Linked DNA regions of Homo sapiens. The protein of the gene in region 1 purifies or fractionates together with the protein of each later gene. This does not show direct contact. Each region holds a gene or a part of one and is shown on either strand. Other genes may lie near its edges.

Region 1 (8,139 bases):
GGAATGATACCAGTTCCTCCTTGTACCTCTGGTAGAATTTGGCTGTGAATCCATCTGGTCCTGGACTCTTTTTGGTTGGTAAGCTATTGATTATTGCCACAATTTCAGATCCTGTTATTGGTCTATTCAGAGATTCAACTTCTTCCTGGTTTGGTCTTGGGAGAGTGTATGTGTCAAGGAATTTATCCATTTCTTCTAGATTTTCTAGTTTATTTGTGTAGAGGTGTTTGTAGTATTCTCTGATGGTAGTTTGTATTTCTGTGGGATCGGTGGTGATAACCCCTTTATCATTTTTTATTGCCTCTATTTGATTCTTCTCTCTTTTTTTCTTTATTAGTCTTGCGAGTGGTCTATCAATTTTGTTGATCCTTTCAAAAAACCAGCTCCTGGATTCATTAATTTTTTGAAGGGTTTTTTGTGTCTCTCTTTCCTTCAGTTCTGCTCTGATTTTAGTTATTTCTTGCCTTCTGCTAGCTTTTGAATGTGTTTGCTCTTGCTTTTCTAGTTCTTTTAATTGTGATGTTAGGGTGTCAATTTTAGCTCTTTCCTGCTTTCTCTTGTGGGCATTTAGTGCTATAAATTTCCCTCTACACACTGCTTTGAATGCCTCCCAGAGATTCTGGTATGTTGTGTCTTTGTTCTCGTTGGTTTCAAAGAACATCTTTATTTCTGCCTTCATTTCGTTAGGTACCCAGTAGTCATTCAGGAGCAGGTTGTTCAGTTTCCATGTAGTTGAGCGGTTTTGAGTGAGATTCTTAATCCTGAGTTCTAGTTTGATTGCACTGTGGTCTGAGAGATAGTTTGTTATAATTTCTGTTCTTTTACATTTGCTGAGGAGAGCTTTACTTCCAAGTATGTGGTCAATTTTGGAATAGGTGTGGTGTGGTGCTGAAAAAAAAATGTATATTCTGTTGATTTGGGGTGGAGAGTTCTGTAGATGTCTATTAGGTCCGCTTGGTGCAGAGCTGAGTTCAATTCCTGGGTATCCTTGTTGACTTTCTGTCTTGTTGATCTGTCTAATGTTGACAGTGGGGTGTTAAAGTCTCCCATTATTATTGTGTGGGAGTCTAAGTCTCTTTGTAGGTCACTCAGGACTTGCTTTATGAATCTGGGTGCTCCTGTATTGGGTGCATATATATTTAGGATAGTTAGCTCTTCTTGTTGAATTGATCCCTTTACCATTATGTAATGGCCTTCTTTGTCTCTTTTGATCTTTGTTCGTTTAAAGTCTGTTTTATCAGAGACTAGGATTGCAACCCCTGCCTTTTTTTGTTTTCCATTTGCTTGGTAGATCTTCCTCCATCCTTTTATGTTGAGCCTATGTGTGTCTCTGCACATGAGATGGGTTTCCTGAATACAGCACACTGATGGGTCTTGACTCTTTATCCAATTTGCCAGTCTGTGTCTTTTAATTGGAGCATTTAGTCCATTTACATTTAAAGTTAATATTGTTATGTGTGAATTTCATCCTGTCATTATGATGTTAGCTGGTTATTTTGCTCGTTAGTTGATGCAGTTTCTTCCTAGTCTCGATGGTCTTTACATTTTGGCATGATTTTGCAGTGGCTGGTACCGGTTGTTCCTTTCCATGTTTAGCGCTTCCTTCAGGAGCTCTTTTAGGGCAGGCCTGGTGGTGACAAAATCTCTGAGCATTTGCTTGTCTGTAAAGTATTTTATTTCTCCTTCACTTATGAAGCTTAGTTTGGCTGGATATGAAATTCTGGGTTGAAAATTCTTTCCTTTAAGAATGTTGAATATTGGCCCCCACTCTTCTGGCTTGCAGGGTTTCTGCCGAGAGATCCGCTGTTAGTCTGATGGGCCTCCCTTTGAGGGTAACCCGACCTTTCTCTCTGGCTGCCCTTAACATTTCTTCCTTCATTTCAACTTTGGTGAATCTGACAATTATGTGTCTTGGAGTTTCTCTTCTCGAGGAGTATCTTTGTGGCATTCTCTGTATTTCCTGAATCTGAACGTTGGCCTGCCTTGCTAGATTGGGGAAGTTCTCCTGGATAATATCCTGCACAGTGTTTTCCAACTTGGTTCCATTCTCCCCATCACTTTCAGGTACACCAATCAGACGTAGATTTGGTCTTTTCAGATAGTCCCATATTTCTTGGAGGCTTTGCTCGTTTCTTTTTATTCTTTTTTCTCTAAACTTCCCTTCTCACTTCATTTCATTCATTTCATCTTCCATTGCTGATACCCTTTCTTCCTGTTGATGGCATCGGCTCCTGAGGCTTCTGCATTCTTCACGTAGTTCTCAAGCCTTGGTTTTCAGCTCCATCAGCTCCTTTAAGCACTTCTCTGTATTGGTTATTCTAGTTATACATTCTTCTAAATTTTTTTCAAAGTTTTCAACTTCTTTGCCTTTGGTTTGAATGTCCTCCCGTAGCTCATAGTAATTTGATCGTCTGAAGCCTTCTTCTCTCAGCTCATCAAAGTCATTCTCCGTCCAGCTTTGTTCAGTTGCTGGTGAGAAGCTGCGTTCCTTTGGAGGAAGAGAGGCACTCTGCTTTTTAGAGTTTCCAGTTTTTCTGTTCTGTTTTTTCCCCATCTTTGTGGTTTTATCTACTTTTGGTCTTTGATGATGGTGATGTACAGATGGGTTTTTGGTGTGGATGTCCTTTCTGTTTGTTAGTTTTCCTTCTAACAGACAGGACCCTCAGCTGCAGGTCTGTTGGAGTACCCTGCAGTGTGAGGTGTCAGTGTGCCCTGCTGGGGGTGCCTCCCAGTTAGGCTGCTCAGGGGTCAGGGGTCAGGGACCCACTTGAGGAGGCAGTCTGCCCGTTCTCAGATCTCCAGCTGCGTACTAGGAGAACCACTGCTCTCTTCAAAACTGTCAGACAGGGACATTTAAGTCTGCAGAGGTTACTGCTGTCTTTTTGTTTGTCTGTGCCCTGCTGCCATAGGTGGAGCCTACAGAGGCAGGCAGGCCTCCTTGAGCTGTGGTGGACTCCACCCAGTTCCAGCTTCCAGCTGCTTTGTTTACCTAAGCAAGCCTGGGCAATGGTGGGCGCCCCTCCCCCAGCCTTGCTGCCGCCTTGCAGTTTGATCTCAGACTGCTGTGCTAGCAATCAGCAAGACTCCGTGGGCGTAGGACCCTCCGAGCCAGGTGCGGGATATAATCTCGTGGTGTGCCGTTTTTTAAGCCCGTCGGAAAAGCGCAGTATTGGGGTGGGAGTGACCCAATTTTCCAGATGCCGTCCATCACCCCTTTCTTTGATTAGGAAAGGGAACTCCCTGACCCCTTGTGCTTCCCAAGTGAGGCAATGCCTCGCCCTGCTTCGGCTCGCGCACGGTGCGCGCACCCACTAACCTGCGCCTACTGTCTGGCACTCCCTACTGAGATGAACCCGGTACCTCAGATGGAAATGCAGAAATCACCCGTCTTCTGCGTCGCTCACGCTGGGAGCTGTAGACCGGAGCTGTTCCTATTCGGCCATCTTGGCTCCTCCCCTCTCCCCTCTTTTTTAATTTAAAGAACATTTACAAATAATTAGCAACTTGTTCACTTTTAAGTCATACCAAAAACATGGCTGAAAATGTGCACTGCTATTGAGAAATCCGGGGTACAAATGAAAATACAAGTAAGTACAACATGTCAAGGACTAAATAACAAGCTCTCATTCTGTTAGCATCTGCCCCTTAATGATCTTAACATCCAAAGTGTTTGAGGCTTTGTGCCAAGAACTATAAAATAAATCAAGATTTTTTTTGTTCAAGAATGTATGAGTCAGGTATTCAAATTAGCTAACAAGTGACTTTTGTTTCATAATAATTACATTTTAGAACTGGAAGGAACCCGAGAGAGTACACTGATCTGTGTAGAGACAGACCCTCTTTATCTCTTTCAAGTACATTTACATTAGTAAATATACCCTTTTTATCCCTCTCAAGTACTAGTATAGTTACGTTAGTCACTCGACCCAAACCTTAATAGGCTGCCAAAACGTTTTCATAAACGAAATGAAATGGAAATAAAACAGTAAGAGAAGAGGTTATTCCATATGTTGAACTTTGGTCCTGGGCTCTAAGCTCACCACTGTTTTAGTTAATGTTCACATGCTCAGAGATTGTTCCCCAAACCTACATCTTGGTAAGGCAGCTGGCTCCTGAGGAGTGAGGCGTCTTGACACCCACTTCACTGGAATCAGTCTCCTTCAGCATCCTAAGGCACTCAGCTCTAATGAACTGCCCGGACTCCCGTTTGCATTATGATAAGCTCCTCTTTAGAACCTCTACTGTCTGCTTTTGACAGCCGACCTCAAGGAATACTGACTTAATCCAGGAATCCCAATAACATTTAATATTTATCTTCCTTTTCTGGGAGGAATCTACACTTATCCAAGTTGCCCAAGTGAGCAGTTCCCTCCCCACAAGTAATTAGTTCTACTCCCCAGAGGGTCTGTGAGTGAATCCCTCTGTCAGTTTTGAAATGTCCCATTATAGTTTTCATCTGTAAATATGTCAATATGTATCCAAAAGATGAGGATCTTTAAAAACGTAATCATAATGCTACTATCATATGTAAAAATGAAACATAATTCCTTAATATCATCAGATATCCAGTGTTTAAATTTTTCCAGTCTCATGTTTTTGTACATTTTTAAATAATCACATGTTTAAATCGTTTCCATCTCCAAGGCGTCGACCTCCCCTCCATTCTCCTGGGCGTCGCGCTTCCCTCTTTGTTTCCCGCCCTTGCGGTTCTGTCGGAACCTAACGAGCTTCCTTCCACCGCAAAAGAGCTGGAGAACAATGCTAGGCAACGTGCTGGAGACCTTGGCCCTCGGAACCCAAGTCACGCCTCCCATGTGAGCTCTGGAGGGAGAACTTTATGTGTTGCACTGAGGGCAGTCTCCGGAAACGCGATTCGCAGCGGGCGCCGGAAGCGGTGTTGTGTCTGCAGCTCTGGCAGAGGACTGTTCCACTAGACACGCTGAAGGGACTGGGTACGTGTTTTCCTTCAGGACCAGAGCTGAGAGGAGCTGGGATCGCGGCGGCAATGGAACGGGCCTCAGAAAGGCGCACGGCCAGCGCGCTTTTTGCGGGGTTCCGGGCCTTGGGACTTTTCAGCAACGACATTCCACACGTGGTGCGGTTCAGCGCGCTCAAGCGCCGGTTCTATGTAACAACCTGCGTGGGCAAGAGTTTCCACACCTATGACGTGAGTGACTTCTTTTGTTAGCTTCCCAGGAAAACCACCCTCCTTGGCCTCTAACTCTGTCCTGGAGCAGTCCGGTTCTCCCTTCCCATTTACCACGGGCTTCCCTTCTTTAACCCCTCCCTGTCCTATTAATATTTCGCCATCCGGTCACGTCCACGTGCTGATTTGGCACTTGCAGTCCTCCTGGGGCGTGTTTCAGAGGCAGCCTGGCCAAGGGGAAACTGCTAGAGAACATCTCAGTTGTATGGCAGTAATATTTGTTCAGTGAATATTTATTGACCTTCCCTTGAAGGTGGAAACATAATTAAGACAAACCTCTACCTCTTGCATTCTTAATGAGAGAGAAAAACATGCACGCTATTACGTTATTGGTGACACGAGCTGAGTTAGAAATTCACTCTAGGTAGAATACATTGGGAGAACCGGAGATGGTGAGATTAATTACCGTTAGGGAAAATATCTAATAGCAATCAGTTATTTTCAACTAACGCAAAGTGTCTGGCACTGTCACTCTAAGCCTTGCAGCCGTTTCTTTGCAACATAGGTGTCATTATACCGTAGCACCTTTATATAATCTATTAAAGTAAATTTCAGATAAATCACTTGTTAGTGATGATTTTTTCTCCTATAACAGTTCATCGATCATTGTAATAGTGTCTCTTGTTTACTTGTTTCTTTTGTCTTCTCCGAAAGAATGTAACCTCTGTGAGAACAGAAACCTTGATGAGGAGGATGATAATAGTCAGTGTTAATTAAGTACTTTCTTTTCTGGAAAACAGGTAGAGTTGTCTCTCTTGGAGGATTGTGAATATCAAATGGCTTATTAGCAAAAAGAGCTGGGAGGTAGGAACTAGTTGAGTTAGTGGAAAAGGAAAGTGAGGGCAGAGCTGAGGTGAAGAGCAATTGGGTTTCTCAGAGTCTGAGCTGGTAATGGAGACAGGGTGGGTTAGAACCATATTAATCATGTGAAAGTATTTAGTGTTACCATTCTCTGCACTTGTTCCTTGCTTGCTAACTTTTGCTTTTGCTGGTTAATGTTTTCTTCCTTGAAATGTAATTTTTCTGAGTTTATTACTGAAATAACTCTTGAAATCTTGTCTTTGGTACAGTGTCTTTCCTGACACTGCATTACACACAGACACAGGTGTTTTTCCCTATATTCTACTTCCAAAGAAACCCTGTGGTGAGGAGAGTAACATATTTGTACATTTTATAAAGTTAACAATTTACTTACTGTGTGTTGACATTTAGTCATAATAAAGATGGCTTTTAAGTTCTCCTCTAGTTCTAACACTGATGATACATTCGTAACATCATGGCATGTAAATGTTCTTTACCCAGACTGTACACTGCTCAGATTAACCAATGCATTGGGCTGTGACCTCTAAAACTGAAAATACTTGGGAGTAAAAAGAAAAAAAAAAGGAGCTAATGAACCTAAGTCACTAATTGGGTCTACAAGTGCTCTATCCCATGACTATGGCTATATATGCTGTCCCCAGTCAGACTTCCTACAGTCCTACAGATTAGTTTCTTCTACAGGGGAAACTAGACAAGTTGTGAATAGGTGGTGGTAGTGATGGTAGTAGCTATCATGTATTGAGCAGTTACTATATGACTGGCCCCATTCTGTTTTACACAAATTTACTCATTGAATCCTCATAACAATCCCATAAAGTAAATAAATACCTGTTTTACAGATGAAGAATTTGAGGCACAGGGAGCTTATTTTTCCAGGGTCATACAGCTGGATCAGTAGCCATGATTGGGGTCAGCAAATTACAGTCTGTAAGCCAGTCTAGCCCACTGTTTGTTTTTGTATGACCCAGGAGTTACGAATGATTTTGACATGTTTAAATGTTTGTGGGGGCAGGCTGGGGGTAGGGAGAAGGATATTTCATGACATGAAAACTATGTGAAAATCAAATTTCAGTATCTATAGATAAAAGTTTAATATACCCATGCACATTATTTATCTATTACGTATGGCTGTTTTCATGCTACGGTGGCAGAAGTGAGTAGTTGGCAACAGAGACCACATGCATTGCCTGCAAAGCCTAAAATATTTAATATTTGGCCCATTATAGAAAACATTTGCCTACCCCTTCCATCACCACTCCTGGTGAAATACAGTTGAAAATATAAACTTTCCTAATAAAGAAAATTAGTGTCAGTAAGTGTCTTTCTTATGAAGGACAGCATAGCAAATATACGTATGAGGTTATATCTTAATCTTCAGGTGTTAGGTTATTATGATTATGTTTGTTAATGAAAATTTAACCTTTTTTCTTTTTTAAACAGGTTCAGAAACTTAGTCTGGTTGCAGTAAGTAAGTATGGACTTTATTCTGAATTTATGCACATCTAAACTTTTTTTTTATTTTGACATAAATGTGAGACTTACAGAGCATATAAGGAAGCCAAGGTAACATGTATGTCTTATAAACTTACATTATCAGCAACAAAAAAGGGTGCCAGGATAAATCATGTTTTGCTTTTAGTTGTTATGTATCTTTATTTTCTTTAATCTGGAACTGTTCTTTAGACTTTCTTTGTGCTTCATGACATTGACACATTGACATTTTTGAAGAGTACAGGCTCATTTAGAATGTCCTTCAGTTTGAGTTTTTTTGACATTTCTTCAGGATTAGATTTAGGTTGTACCCCTTGGGAGGAATCACAGTGAATTGTATCAGAAGGCACATGCTGTTAGTTGGTTCTGTTCCTGGTAGTGATTGGTTAGGAGGCTCTATTTTTAAGTTAGTGTTTTGTCATTTGTAACGAATAAGTATCTTTTGGTAGTATGCACTGGGACTATGTAAATATCTTAGTACTCTTCAAAGTTATTACCTGCTGCTTTTATATTTTATGATGATACTTGCCTGAATCAGTTATTAGTATGATGGTTGCCAAATGCATGTTGATTATCCTTAATCCAAAAATTTGAAACCCAAAATGCTCCTAAGTCTGAAA
Region 2 (7,397 bases), on another chromosome or scaffold:
CTGCCAATCTCTGTGTAAAAGCTTTGATGCTGGTTTAATGGGCAGAAGTAAATCAGTTTAGCTGCATTGAGCCTATAATGTCAGATATGCATGAGGTGGGCATGACAACGTGACTAATTTGGAACTTGAGGAATGAGGGATTATATTGAGTCAACACTGAATAAAAAATGATGTCCAGGTATTTTAGGTCAATGATTCATTTAGAGTAAATAAAGATTAAGAAGTCACAAGTTACATGCTTTTAATGACATGATCAACAGTTGGTGTTGTTCTGGCGCAGTGGCTAACACCTGTAATCCCAGCACTTTGGGAGGCCGTGGCGGATGGATCACTTGAGGTGAGGCTTTCGAGACGAGCCTGGCCAATATGGTGAAACCCCATCTCTACTAAAAAAAAAAAAAAAAAAAAAATTAGCCGGGTATGGTGGCACATGCCTGTAGTCCCAGCTACTCGGGAGGCTGAGGCAGGAGAATCGCTTGAACCTAGGAGGTGGAGTCAGCTGTGAGCCAGGATCCCACCACTGCACTCCAGCCTGGGCAACAGAGTGAGACTCTGTCTCAAAAACAAAAAAACAGTTGGTGTTTACTAACCTAGTAGAACCAAGGCACCCAAGGAGCTGAGTTTTCTTTGTTTATATGCACAGATTGCTTCACCTGTGGTATCAGACATCACAACATGGGGCTCACCAAGCAGTACCTACGCTATGTTGCTAGTGCGGTCTTTGGCGTTATCGGCAGCCAAAAAGGTAATATTGTCTTTGTGACACTTCGTGGTGAGAAAGGACGTTATGTGGCAGTACCAGCTTGTGAACACGTTTTCATCTGGGACTTAAGGAAAGGAGAGAAGGTGAGCCTAAAATGACCAGTTTGATACTGATTTATTGGTATTTGAGGATGGAGAGGTAGTAGAAGTGGGGGGGCTCTGATTTATTTATCATGAGTTTTTTTGTGTCTGTGCCCTTAGAAGAAAAATCTTTTTCCTTTAGGTCTAGCTAGCCAAGCATCAAGTTCCTTTGTGTTCTTCGCCACTGAATTCTGAAAACCACAATGAAATAGGAGCTTATTTCTTAGATGTCTATTTGTTGGAATATTTACAGGTCATTATTTGCAGTAATTATTTATTCCTGATGTATTTTTTCTCTACCAATTCTATTTTTCAAGCTCGACTTATGCTTATAGCTGGTTATAAAATATTAGGCATGTAAAAGGAAGGTTAGTCTATTTTGGCAGAATCTTTTTCTAATATGGATAATGCCCAAGTGTTGTTAAAGTAGACTTTGATACTTTGTGTGACTGAATTCCCTAAGCCTACCACTTTTGCCAAACCAAATATAGGCATTTTGATATTGTCCATTCATTTTGTGATTCCCAAGAGGTTAGTACTTTGATTCTTGTTGCCACCAAGAGTCCTTTGTGGTTAAAACCACTGCAGTACTCTGTTGCCACACAGATTATTTTCTTATAAAATGGGTCTCAGTTAAAGGAATTTATAAACCTTTATTGAAAATCACGTAGTGTTGTTCTAGGGTTAAGAATTAGATTAAAGGGATTAAATTTATTTTATTGCCTAGGGAGTTTTTATATGTATTACAACAACGTAGGGCTTTGGAGAAAATAATTAAGCCTTTTCTTAAATGTTTCATTGCCTAGTACAAATACTAATTTCTATATTAAAAAACTTGAAATGGATTGTGGAGTTTCATTTTTATTCATAAGAGTAATTTGGAATTATTGGTGCTCTTAATTTTACTGTGCCTGAGTATTCCTATGCTTTTCCCTTGAGTTCATGCTTAACTCTTCTACATTGTTTTTAATTTTTATGATTTCAGATTCTTATCCTTCAGGGGCTTAAACAAGAAGTTACTTGCTTATGCCCCTCCCCAGATGGGCTACACTTAGCTGTTGGGTATGAGGATGGGTCGATCCGAATCTTCAGTCTCCTGAGTGGGGAAGGAAATGTGACCTTCAATGGTCACAAAGCAGCTATCACTACCTTGAAGTATGATCAGCTAGGAGGCAGACTGGCATCTGGGTCCAAGGTGAGCCTTTGAATCAGCCCAGGCTTTGATCTATTAAAGGAATGTAAGGCTTATGCTGAAGCAAGTTGTTGACAAAAATTGTCAGGTAAAACAATGGGCTGTCAATATACAAAGTAGTATAATGATAGAGTGAAGAGGATGGGTGTGAATTGGGTGGTTCATTTTGTTTCCTTTTGTTCATTTTGTCATATTTTCTGATAAAAGCCTCTTAAGTGTAGGAATAAGATGAAGAGAGCCATGATAACTCTTATTGTGGAAGTGCTACGCAAAACAGTAAAATAAGGAAAGAAAACAAAGACTGGAAAAGAAGAGACAAAATAATTATTTGCCATTGACTTCTGTAAAGTCAGTAGAATTTCCTGTATCTCACAAGTCATGAGTTAGAAAATATAAAAGATTCCATTCACAACAGATTAAGTAACAGACATAAAAATACCATGAAACTTTACTGAAGAATGGAATAGAAGACTTTTATAGAGATATAATCCATGTTCTTGAATGGGAAGACAAGGTATTGAAAAGATGGTAGTGTTTTCTAATTGATTTATATAGCTAAAGCTATGTTTAGACATATGTTTATATAGATACAGATATATTTAAATAGATATCTTAAAGGTTTTAGTTGTTACTTAGAACTTGACCTAATATGGAAAAGCAAAGGAATTGGAAACACTAAAATTTGGGAAGAAAAGAATAATAAAACAGGGGTTTTAGATATTAAAATGTCATATAAACCCATAATTTAAGAAGTATCATATTGATACTTCAATGCAAGTACCAATGCAAAATAGATTATTGCAACCAAATGGAAATCTCAGAAACACATCCATGATTACATTCCTAATTAGTATATTTTAAAGACGACATTTTAATAAGTAGAAAAATGATAGATTACTTATAAAACAGTCCTTAGACAATTGGCTATTTGAGCGAAATTTTTAAATTAAAGCTTTACCTCATGCTATATACCAAAATGAAACAAAGATTAAAGACTTAACTATTAAAAAATAGCATTTTAAAGTAAACTAGAAAATATGTAAGTAAATATCCGATAGCAAGGTAGAAAAGGACTTTATTAGCAAAGAAATAAATTAAAAAAGGAAACTGTTGGTAGATTGGAATACTTGAAACATTTGTACATTAAAAACAAGTCAGAGGACACTGAAAAAGTTAAAATATTTAATATTTTCAATATAAAAAGAAAGGATTAGTATCATTCATCTATTAATAACTTACAGTCAAATAAGAGATGACACTCTAAGAATGATAGACAAAAGAAAGTCATGAATTGGCAATTCAAAAGAGATACTTTATGGCCAATAATCACCATAAAGCATGTAAAATATTTCTCATTTGTATTCATAAAAAATGTAAATTAAAATAAATATTAAGACTGAACATTTTTTACTTATGATATTTGTAGTAGTTTTTGAGAAAACTAATAATAGAGTTAAATGAATGGGGAACAGGCCTTGTCATACATATCCCTGCTGGTTCTATAGATTTACCCAACCTGGAGATCATTTTGATAGTATGAATCCAAAACTTTAAAAATAAACATATCATATAACCCAAGAGCTTTTCATTTTAGTTTTTTCTAATCAGAGATACATACAGAAATTTGTATATAAGAATGTTCACTTCTGCATATTTATAACAGCAGAAGGTTGGAAACTAAATGTCTGAAACAGAAAAATTTTTAAATAAGTTGTGCTATTACTTTAGAATTGATTATTATGTGAGCATTAAAAATGTGAACACTCTGGAATAACATGGAAGAAATGGAAATAATATTAAATGAATAAAGAAAAGGTTGTAAAATGATATGAATGGCATGATTTTAGTCTTCTAATAGGAAAATAACCTGGATTATACATAAAGACTAGAGCAATAACAATGTCTGGGGATTATTTCTGGTTGGTGAGAATAAGGCTGGTGTTTATTCCCCTGTACTTTCCCCATGCTTTCCAAATTTTCTGTAAGGACTGTGTATTGCCTTTTTAATAATTAAGTCTCATTGTTTGTCAAGTTGGGCCATATATGGTAAAGAAAATTATTTTTCATCTGTATTATTTGATCCCTTTAGGACACAGATATTATTGTATGGGATGTGATCAATGAAAGTGGTCTGTACCGTCTAAAGGGGCACAAGGATGCCATCACACAAGCATTGTTTCTACGAGAAAAGAACCTGCTAGTTACTAGGTAAAGAAATAATGGTTTAATTTCCAGTTATTTTCTAGGAAGAGAGAATTTGCTTTATTCCTTACTCATTTCTCTCATGAGCAGTGTGCTCATGCTTATGCATTAGTTTTCTCTCCTGTTCTCCTGCATTCCTTCTTTCCATTTCTTCTAAGTAGTATCGTAGAGCTATCCAAAGCTATATTATTTTTAAAATCATTTTTCTAATTTGTCATTCTTTTTTCTTGATATCAGTTTTTCTGTGTTTCTTAGCCTTTTGAAACTCATTATAGAATGAGCTTTGTCTACCTTCTAGATCTCTAGAAAGCCAGGAATCAGAATATGGAGCAGAGGGAAGATATGAATACCAGGTGTTAAATTCGGCTTGCCTTTTGAGGAGAGATGTACTGTACTTCATAGGCCTTCTGAACACCTATTAGGATGAACCATTTGAAATTTTTATTTGTGTACATAAAAAATCATCAAATATCAACAATTTTATATTGTTCAACCTAATATAATAATGAATATTCCTAAAGAATGGCCACCTAGGAAAAGCTGGGATACCAAGGTTTGCCAGGCATTAATTAGAGGAACCATAGTAATGACTCAGAAAAAGCTGTGAGCACTAAATGCTTTACCAATGGTGGATTTGTTTCTGTGGGATAGGATACAGGTAAATTAGTGTCTTGTTCAGATAACACAGGTTCTGTAAGAGAATGATTCTATAGTTCTAATAGAAAAAATATATATTACAGCTTAGGGAATATAAAGGCAAAGAAATAACACTGTAAGGTGGGGTTATATGGGACGGACTTTGTAAATCAGGTTTTTGAGCGGTGTTTTTTTCCAGTTTGCTCATGAAGGAGGATTATATTAGATTTATGTAGTGAGGAGGTAGGGAAGAGGTGTTTGAGCAGGAGTAGTAGAGGCCATTGGCTGCGAGAGGTTATATTTAGGGGGTTAAGAACAAATAAATAGGAAATTTTGAGACTGCTGCCAATGAGCCTGACTTTGATTCTACAGGGAACATTGAGCTAGTGCAAATATTAAAAATTAAGGTTATCTGACAGTTGCACATTGGATGGGATGAGAGAACAGCAATGGACAAAGAGACCAAATGAGAAGCTGTTAAAATAATCCAGGTAGTAGGACTTAAGTTCAGGTTAGTGTACAGAAATGGACTAGAGGAGTTAATACTTAGAAACTTCACAGAGGAGGCATTTTCAGGACAAGAGACTAACTGGACAGGAAGACAAGGGAGTGGGAGCGGTCTAAGATGTTTCCATGGTAGACTGTCTGAGGGGAATGCCAGTGCTGTGATGATGGAAATGATAGGAGGAAGGCCTGATGGATCAAATTCTGTATTCTTTGGTACTCTGCATCTAAAGTCATTCTTGTGCTTATAGGTGGAACATTTTATTTTCTGCACAGGAATAACTACAAGGAAAGTTAGGATTCTTTGCTTTTCAAAAGTAAGATCAGAGAGAATCGGAGCTTTAGACATTATTGAAGCATATGTTCCTTTTAAAGCAACAGTGAGTTTTGGATCTCCCTATTCGTTGAATGAGTTTTCCTAAACAGGCTATATATTTTTTTCCTGTTTCTTCTTTTAGTGGGAAAGATACCATGGTGAAATGGTGGGACCTTGATACTCAGCACTGCTTTAAAACAATGGTTGGCCACCGGACTGAGGTAAGTGTAGGGTCATGGGCCCAGGGAAATAATGGGAAGGCAAAAGGGAAAAGGTGGTGGTCTTCTCTTCCCCTTTCATGGCTCTTTGTTTTTAGTGCACACAGTAATTATCATATGCCATCTTGAGGGACAGTGAGGCTGGTATGATGGAAGCAATGCCAGCCATTGGAGCAGATACTGCTGCTCTGACATGTAGTAAAAATTGGCCTTGCGTGGTTTTTAATTCCTGAGTTTCATCATTTCTAAATAATAAGTGTCCACTTTTATGAATGTAGGGAAGTTTAATGATATTATATGTGCAGCACCTAGCTTATTGACAGGTAAGCAGCACGTGGTAGCTGTTAAAATAGTTACTTGAACAGAGATCTATTCAGTTGAGTTCAGGGACTGTTTTTTATATATCTTTGCATCCTCAGTGCTTTATTCATATCAGGCATTCAGGAAGGTAATACCTAGAATTAATGACAAGAAGATTAAATTCTTTGTTGATTTGCAACAATATTATTTTCATTATTTAATTCCCGGATACTTGAAGCTGAAAGTTATGCAATGGACATTAGTGGGGCACCTTTTATTTGCTAGACACTGCTAAAAGCAAAGAAATAGAAGACTTAAAATCATCATTTGAGTGGATTCTAGTTAAGATTTATGCTGAACAGCCATTATCTTAATTTGATTATACGAGGTTAGAGACAAACTGCTAGTATCACAAAAGTAACAATTTCACCGCAGGCCATTTTTTTCTCTGTAAAAGTGAGACTTCTCTTAGTGCATTTTGAAAGGGTTGTCGATATGCCTTTTCTTTGCCTTTAAATTGCTAGACATTTTACTACGGTGTAACAGACTTTTGGAATGTCATATTATGCTACCTGGAATCTCTTGAAAATCGTATTACTCAAATCTTTTTATATTCTATAGGTATGGGGGTTGGTTCTGTTGTCAGAAGAAAAGCGACTCATCACTGGGGCCTCAGACAGTGAACTGAGGGTATGGGACATAGCTTATCTGCAAGAGGTAATTACTTCTTAAAATCATGGGCAATATGTTTAGAAGTTTCATAAGCACCTTGGATTTAGAATCAGATGTAATTATTCAGTACTTCACATCATATTAGAAGGAATTCTATCACACCAATAACCTGCAACACTTAAAAAAGCTTTTCTTCCTTATATGCTCATTATCCTTATTTATTTGAGCTCAGGTTAGCTTTAGGCTTACAGCTTCTGGTAATACTAATGTTTTAGTTTGTGGCACTCTTAATCAGATATTCTTGGACCTTTGGGTGTCCATGGATGGCCTTCAGAATATCTGTGAACCTTTCCCCTCAAATATATATGTAGAATTTTATGTTTATAAATATGTATATTCTGAAAAGATCTATAACTTTTTCTTAGACATTCAAAGAATTTACATAGAAGAAAAGCTTGCAGACCTTAGGTTTAGCTGAATTTCGGTGTGTGCTGGGTCCAGCAGCCATTTCGAT
Region 3 (7,397 bases), on another chromosome or scaffold:
TCTCCCTCTCCACCCCAGGCCCTGAAGCTGCCCGCCTCCATCCCAAGCTCGGGACCCCAAAGGAACCTCACACAGCATCTCCACTGTCGCCAGCTGGCCCCACAGCAGAGCTAGTGGTGCACCCAGAGACAGCAGTGCCCATGGGAGGCAGAGGAGGTGCGGGAGGCGCGGCATGGCCGCCAGGCACACCCGAATCCCATCATCCCCTGCTGCTTCCTCCTCTAAGGAACCCTCGGTCCCCATCAGCAGACGAAGGTGACCCTGATGGCACCCCCGCCCTCAAAACCTCCCCAAGTCACGTTGTAGCTCAGCCCTGGTCCTTCCCTCTCCTTTCTGGACCCCGTCCCTCCTGAACAAGTGACAGGGAGCACTGGCTGCCAATGCAGCAGGCCCTCCCTTCACATGTTTCGCGCTGACAGCCCGCAGTCCCCGCCTAGCAGGCACACTGTCTTCCTGGAGCTGCCTGGAACCTCCCTTCCCCAGGGCGGGGTTGGGGGGCCCATCATCCCTTCCTCTTCCTCCAGTCCCCATTCAAGTCTTGACTCCAGCACAACACCCCCAAGTCCCCGCGGGCACTGACGGGCACGGACTCACGGGCACTGACCCACCCGCGGGCACTGACTCACTTGTGGGCACTGACCCACTTGGACCTGTTCTGGCCACCCTCCAACTCCGCTGCCCTTGGCAAAGCACCCTCCTCCCACTGGAGTCCAGCCGGCCCTCCCTGCTCCTCAGACCCAGGGCTCTCATGGCCACAACTCCCACCTACCCAGCAGACCCCAACCCCTCCAAAGGCAGCCCGTTCTGGCCGCCTGGCTCCCTCCACAGGCAGGGCCTTGTGTGGGCGCCTTCCCCACCCAGGGACCCCAACTGCCGCCCACCTCCGCACGCAGCCACCTCATCACTGCACCTCTCCTCCCCGGCGGAGAGGAGGCCTCACAAGGGTGGGCAGTGTGTCTCAGTGCCAAGTTCAGAGCCCTGCACACAGCAGGCGCTAAGCAACTGCAGCAAGGAGGGGCCCAGGCTGGGGCACCCGGGTGACGGAGACACCATAGCTGCGGGCAACTCTGCCTTCATGTGATCCTGACCAGCCTCCCCCCACAGCCCAGACGCGGGACACCCCGAATCAGGGCAGCATCTCTGCCAGGGCTCCAGGCACAGCTAAGGCCATCCCACAGGCAGTCCGTGGGGCCGGGCTCAGTCTCATCTCATCTCGTCTCGTCTGGGGGACTGAGTCCGGATGCGGGGCTGCACGGCCCAGCTCAGTGCCTGAAAAAGCACCAAGTACCACCCACCAGCGGGCCCCGAAGCAGGACTCAGACCACTCGCTGCGCCCACTCACAGCCCGGTCCCTCCCTCCACCCTTGCCAAATGCTCTCCCGGCATCTCCCTGCACGAGGCCAAGGGACTATCGCCCACACCAAACTCCACAGAAGCTGGTGGGGCCACAGACAACTCCCAACCCCCTTAGGGCCCAAGGTGCTGCTATTCCCGTCACGGAGTGCCCGCACACCTCCCTGCCCCCTATGCACCCCTACCCACCGCCCTCTGCCCTGCCCTGGGCACACAGGCAGCTCAGACAGCCGAGGCAGGGACCCTGCTTAAGGGGCAGGGTCAACACCCAAGCACTCGAGGGTGCTCAAACCGGGGCCCTGAGACGCAGGCCTGCTCTCTGTACCTCCCACTCCTCGGCCCTGGGGACCCCACATCCAGATCCCTCTGGGGGCAAGAGATTCCCACAGGAGTGCCCCGCCACAGCCCACCACACCTCAGAGACCTACTTGGCCAGCCGTGAGTACTTCACTTTTCCTGTCTTCTCCTCCTCGGCCGGAGTGGCTTTTCCCCGGATGGTGGTCTCTCTGTCGCCCTCCTGGTCCTCCTCCTCCTCCTCTTCCTCCTCCCGCTGCAACAGGTCTGCTTTCCAGCCCGCAGGGGGCTTCAGCCGCAAGCCCTCGGGGGGCGTGTCACACTGCCACATGCACAGCACTCCGTCCTGGCTGAGTGAGTACAGCTGCAAGGGGAAGCACAGGGTCACCCCAGCCCCAGCCACACTGGCCCAGCTGCCACAACCCGGCACCTCCCTCCAGCTCAGATCCAGGGACCAGTGGCACCGACGGCCCCTCTGAACTCTGAGAACAATTCTCGATGGGCCGCCACAGCTGCCATCGGTCCCTAGATGCCCCCAGGCCACACGGGAACAGCCTGGGGGAACCGCAGGAAGAGGCCGCCTGCAGCCTGGGGCCTCCCTGAACTAGCCGCTTTTGGCCACCATCAGGCTAGGGAACTTGGCAAAGGGACATACGTCCAGGCTGTTGGATTCAAAGAAGCAGGCCACGATGGCATCCTTATGTCCCCCCAGTGCATAGTAGATGAGGTTGTCCCAGCGCTCGGCTCCGAACACCCAGGTGGACATGTCTTTGCTCCCAACCACAAAGCACCTGGAAAAGAGGGAGATGGCACCTCCTCAGGGCTTGGCCATAACAAAGCAGCCAGGTGCAAGCTCCAGAGGGCTGCACGGAGACCGCTACAGCCCCACGTGGTCTCAGAGTGAGCTGAGACGCCTCCAGGCACAGGAAGACACCCCGGCACAGCCCCTGCCCTGTCTGCCTTCCTCACACCTCCCAGACGCTGTCCCTGCCCTGTCTGCCTTCCTAACTCCTCCCAGACGCTGCCCGAGCCAACCACAGCATTCCCAGTTTCTGGGACAAACAGGTGAAAGGGCAGTGCAGGGGCAGGAGGCTCGGCCACAGCACACACTTCAGAGCCGCAAAGACTCGACCACAGCCACCCAGCCAGTCCTGATGGTGTGGGCAGCGCCCAGCCCCAAAGGAGGCCGAGATGCCATTGCGGAACGAAGCTGCAGGGCCCAAGGGGGTGACCTGTCCAAGGGGCCTCTCTCAAGCCCCGCTCCCCCGAAGCCTCTGAGGCCGCACCTGGAGTCATCCGTCCAGTCGATGCAGGTGGTCTCATCGTAGGGCCCAAAATAGGTCTTGTCCAGAACGAAGGCGTTGAACTCCCGCTTCTTCCCAGGGGCATGATACATCTGGGCAATGTTACCCTTTGTGACAACAAACTTCCTATGGAAGGAACGCGGACATAGTTGATATTCAAGACCAGCAATGGCCCTAAGGCCACTGTGGAGTCTCAGCCTGCACCCACCTGGGCCTTCTGGAGTCCCGCCTCCTGCAGGATGGAGGCCAAGGAGCAGAGGAAGCAAAAGTCAGGGAAGAAACAGCCCTGGAGGGAGGGCAGCCTGGCCGCACCAAGCCTTCTCCTCCAGAAAAGGGGGTCACCAATGCCAGAGCTTGGGCCGTGTGCCCAACCCAACGTCACAACCCGGGGCCCAGGGAAACGAGCTGGGCAGTGGGCCTCACCGTCGGCATGCACGGCCGAACCCTCCTGCCCCCAAGCTGTCCCCCTTACCTGCCATCAGGGGAGAAGGACACACTGTGCACAGAGCCCTTGAAGTGGAAGTGGTGCAGCACAGACCTGCAGACCAGGCTGACCAGCAGCGCATCGCCCCCTGCAGGACGCCAGAGGTCACCACCGCGCAGCTACCCCAGGGGCCACCCCAGATACATAGCACGGGAAAAACGGAGAAAGGTCTTTCTCGCGTCCACTGTGAGGAGTCAGGACTGAGAATGCCCAAGGGCCATGAGGCCCTGCCCTGCCACAGGTGATGCCACAGACACAGCCTGCGGCGGGGACGCAGCCTCGCCCATGACACCCTCATCCCCAATCCCCACCCGGGCCCCAACACGGAGGCGACTGGGGAGCGGATCATTTCAGACCCACACAGCCCTGAGTCCTCCTCACTGGTCCCCTCAGTACCCGCCCACATCAAGGGCAAGTACCTTCATCGACGATGATAGCGAGGCGGCCATCCGGGGACAGCCCCACGCACTTGACGTTGTACCGAGTGGCCAGGGGCAGCGTGTCAGATTTGTTGCTGATAAAGACAAAAACCACAGTGTGCTGTTGGTCCTCAAGTCACATGAGGGAGACAGGCCAGGCCTGGCCTGGGACCAGCGGCTCACCCTCCCCAAGTAGCGCCTCCAATCTTACTGGACCCCACAAGCCAGAGCTCATCTGTGGATACCCCCCACTCCTGAAAAAGAAATGACATTGTTGGCCGGGCACGGTGGCTCACGCCTATAATCCTAGTGCTTTGGGAGGCCAAGGCGGGCATATCATAAGGTCAGGAGTACGAGACCTGCCTGGTCAACATGGTGAAACCCCGTCTCTACTATAAAAACAAAAAACAAAAAATTGGACAGGCGCGGTGGCTCACACCTGTAATCCCGGCACTTTGAGAGGCCAAGGCGGGCGGATCACGAGGTCAGGAGATTGAGACCATCCTCACTAACACGGTGAAACCCCGTCTTTACTAAAAATACAAAAAATTAGCCGGGTGTGGTGGCGGGCGCCTGTAGTCCCGGCTATTCAGGAGGCTGAGGCAGGAGAATGGCGTAAACCCGGGAGGTGTAGCTTGCAGTGAGCCAAGGTTGCACCACTGCACTCCAGCCTGGGCGACAGGGCAAGACTCTGCCTCAAAACAAACAAACAAACAAAAAAACCCAAAAAATTAGCCAGGCGTGGTGGTGGGCGCCTGTAATACCAGCTACTCAAGAGGCTGACGCAGGAGAATCGCTTGAACCTGGGAGGCAGAGGTTGCAGTGAGCTGGGACCGCACCACTGCACTCCAGCCTAGGTGACAGAGCAAGACTCTGTCTCAAAAAAAAAAAGAAAAAGAAATGACGTTGTCCCTGGAGGAACTCTAGTGAAATGCATTAAAAGCCTTAAAAATGGGCTTTGGATACATCAATTCTGCTTCCAGGATGATATGATGAGAGGATTATTCCGCCTCAGTGTGACATCAAAATACCAGAAGCAAGCTAAGTGCCCAACAGGAATTAACCACCATGACAGTGCACCCATGTAACACTGTTGCTAGAAAAATGGAAAATAAGGGGCTACAGGAATCCCGCGGAGATGCTGCAGATAACGCTTACACTGCAACTGAGTGAGGCACACACATTCCAGCTTCCCCATAAGCAGCCGAGCTGTGTTTACACCATACTGTAAACAGTACGGCGTAGTCTACTAGCGTGTGCTGTAGTCTGTAAGCGTGCACTGTGCTCTATTCGTGTGAGTTGTAGTCTGTTCGTGTGTACTGTCGTCGAAGTGTGTACTTTATTGGTGTGCGCTGCAGTCTACTCATGTGTGCTGTAGTCTATCAGTGTGCACAAGCATTCTGTCTAAAGCAACAACGTGCATCCCTTAATTTAAAAACACTTTACTGCTAAAAAATGCTAACAATCATCTGAGCCTTCAGTGAGTCTTCATCTTTTTGCTGGCAGACAGTCTGCCTCGATGTGGATGGCTGCTGACCAGGCACAGTGGCAGCTGCTGAAAACGGGGTGGCCGTTGCCAATTCCTAACACAACAGTGAAGCTTGCCGTATCGATGGACTCTTCCTTTCACAAGATGTCTCTGTAGCATGTGATACTGTTTGATAGCATTTTACCCACAACAGACCTTCTTTCAAAACCGGAGTCAATCCTCACAAATGCTCCCAGCGTTTTATCAACTAAGTTGATGTCATATTCTAAATCCTTTGTTGTCATTTCAACAGTCTTTACAGCATCCTCACCAGAAGTAGATTCCATCTCAAGAAACCACTTGCTGGCCGGGCATGGTGGCTCACACCTGTAATCCCAGCACTTTGGGAGGCTGAGGCGGGTGGATCACCTGAGGTCAGGAGTTCTAGACCAGCCTGGCCAACAATGATGAAACTCCTTCTCTACTAAAAATACAAAAATTAGCTGGGCGTGGTGGTAGGCGCCTGTAATCCCAGCTACTTGGTAGGGGGGCCCGAGGCAGGAGAATTGCTTGAACCCAGGAGGTGGAGGTTGCAGTGAGCCAAGATCATGCCATAGCACTCCAGCCTGGGGGACAAGAGTGAGACATTGTCTCAAAAAAAAGAAAAGAAACCACTTGCTTTGCTCATCCACAAGCAGCAGCTCCTCATTCATTCAAGATTGATGGCAACATTGCGGCAATTCAGTCCCATTTCAGGCTCTGCTTTCATTTCGAATCCTCTTGCTATCTTTACTGCATCTGCAGTAACTTCTTCCACCAAAGTCTCGAACCCTTCAAAGTCATCCATGAGGCTTGATACTAAACTTCTGTCAGACTCCTGTTAATGTCGACACTTTGCCCTCATTGAATGAATCATGAAATGACAACTAGAATGGCGACTCCTTCCCAGAAAGCTTTTTATTGGCTTTTCCCAGATCCATTACAGGAATCACTATCTTTGGCAGCTAGAGCCTTATAAAATATATTTCTTAAATGGTAAGACTTGAAAGTTAAAGTTACTCCCGTAGGCTGAAGAAGAGATGTGGTGTTAGCAGGCATGAAGACAGCATCTCCTTATGCGTCTCCATTGGAGCTCATGGGTGACCAGGTACGTTGTCCAACAGCAGAAATATTTTGAAAGGAACCTTAGTGGGTTCAACAATGGGCTGGAAAGATTCAGGAAACCATGCTGTAAACAGATGTGCTGTCGTCCAGACTTTGCTGTTCCACTTATAGAGCACAGGCAGAGTAGCTTGGGCATCATTGTGAAGGGCATTAGGATTTTCAGAACAGTGAATTAGCACTGGCTTCAACTTAATGGCCCCAGCTGCATTAGCCCCTAATAAGAGAGTCAGCCTGTTGTTTGAAGCCAGACACTGACTTTTCTCTAGCTATGTAAGTCCTCGATGGCATCTTTTTCTTTTTTTTTAATTTATTTATTTTTAGATAGAGTCTTGCTCTGTTGCCCAGGCTGGAGTGTACTGGCACGATCTCAGCTCACTGCAACCTCTGCTTCCCAGGTTCCAGCAATTCTTCCACCTCAGCCTCCTGAGTAGCTGGCATTACAGGAATGTGCCACCATGCCTGGCTAATTTTTGTACTTTTAGTAGAGACGGGGTTTCACCATATTGGCCAGGCTGGTCTCAAGCTCCTGGCCTCAAATGATCTGCCTACCTTGGCTTCCCAAAGTGTTGGGATTACAGGCATGAGCCACTGCGCCTGGCCATCTTTTTCCAATAGAAGGCTGTTTTGTCTCCATTGAAATTTTGTGTTTAGTGTAGTCAGCTTCATCAATGATCTCAGCTAGATCTTCTGGATAACTTCCTGCAGCTTCTCCATAGCACTTGCTGCTTCGCTTTGCACTTTTATGTTGTAGAGATGGCTTCTTTCCTTAAACTTCATGAACCAACCTCTGCTAGCTTCCAACTTCTTTCCTGCAGCTTCCTCACCTCAGCCCTCACAGAACAGAGGACAGGTAGGGCCTTGCTGTGCATTAGGCTTTGACTTGCTTAAAGGAATGTTGTGGCTGGTTTGAT

Evidence for each region. Proteins that work in one complex are often made in the same cells at the same time.
Region 2: the proteins of WDR36 (region 1) and WDR3 purify together in Homo sapiens (affinity purification with mass spectrometry; 2 studies listed by BioGRID and IntAct, with this or other methods). This does not show direct contact.
Region 3: the proteins of WDR36 (region 1) and PWP2 fractionate together in Homo sapiens (co-fractionation; 3 studies listed by BioGRID and IntAct, with this or other methods). This does not show direct contact.

Annotation. Positions count from the first base shown.
Region 1 is NC_000005.10:111,087,452-111,095,590, forward strand, and holds the start of WDR36 (WD repeat-containing protein 36), read left to right. Parts: upstream 1-4,896; 5' UTR 4,897-5,005; coding exon 5,006-5,167; intron 5,168-7,468; coding exon 7,469-7,496; intron 7,497-8,139. UniProt on the Homo sapiens protein: Part of the small subunit (SSU) processome, first precursor of the small eukaryotic ribosomal subunit.
Region 2 is NC_000001.11:117,932,645-117,940,041, forward strand, and holds part of WDR3 (WD repeat-containing protein 3), read left to right. Parts: intron 1-643; 5' UTR 644-675; coding exon 676-846; intron 847-1,828; coding exon 1,829-2,038; intron 2,039-4,124; coding exon 4,125-4,243; intron 4,244-5,835; coding exon 5,836-5,914; intron 5,915-6,832; coding exon 6,833-6,928; intron 6,929-7,397. UniProt on the Homo sapiens protein: Part of the small subunit (SSU) processome, first precursor of the small eukaryotic ribosomal subunit.
Region 3 is NC_000021.9:44,110,305-44,117,701, reverse strand, and holds part of PWP2 (periodic tryptophan protein 2 homolog), read right to left. Parts: intron 3,950-7,397; coding exon 3,855-3,949; intron 3,524-3,854; coding exon 3,424-3,523; intron 3,078-3,423; coding exon 2,934-3,077; intron 2,439-2,933; coding exon 2,303-2,438; intron 2,012-2,302; coding exon 1,782-2,011; intron 1-1,781. UniProt on the Homo sapiens protein: Part of the small subunit (SSU) processome, first precursor of the small eukaryotic ribosomal subunit.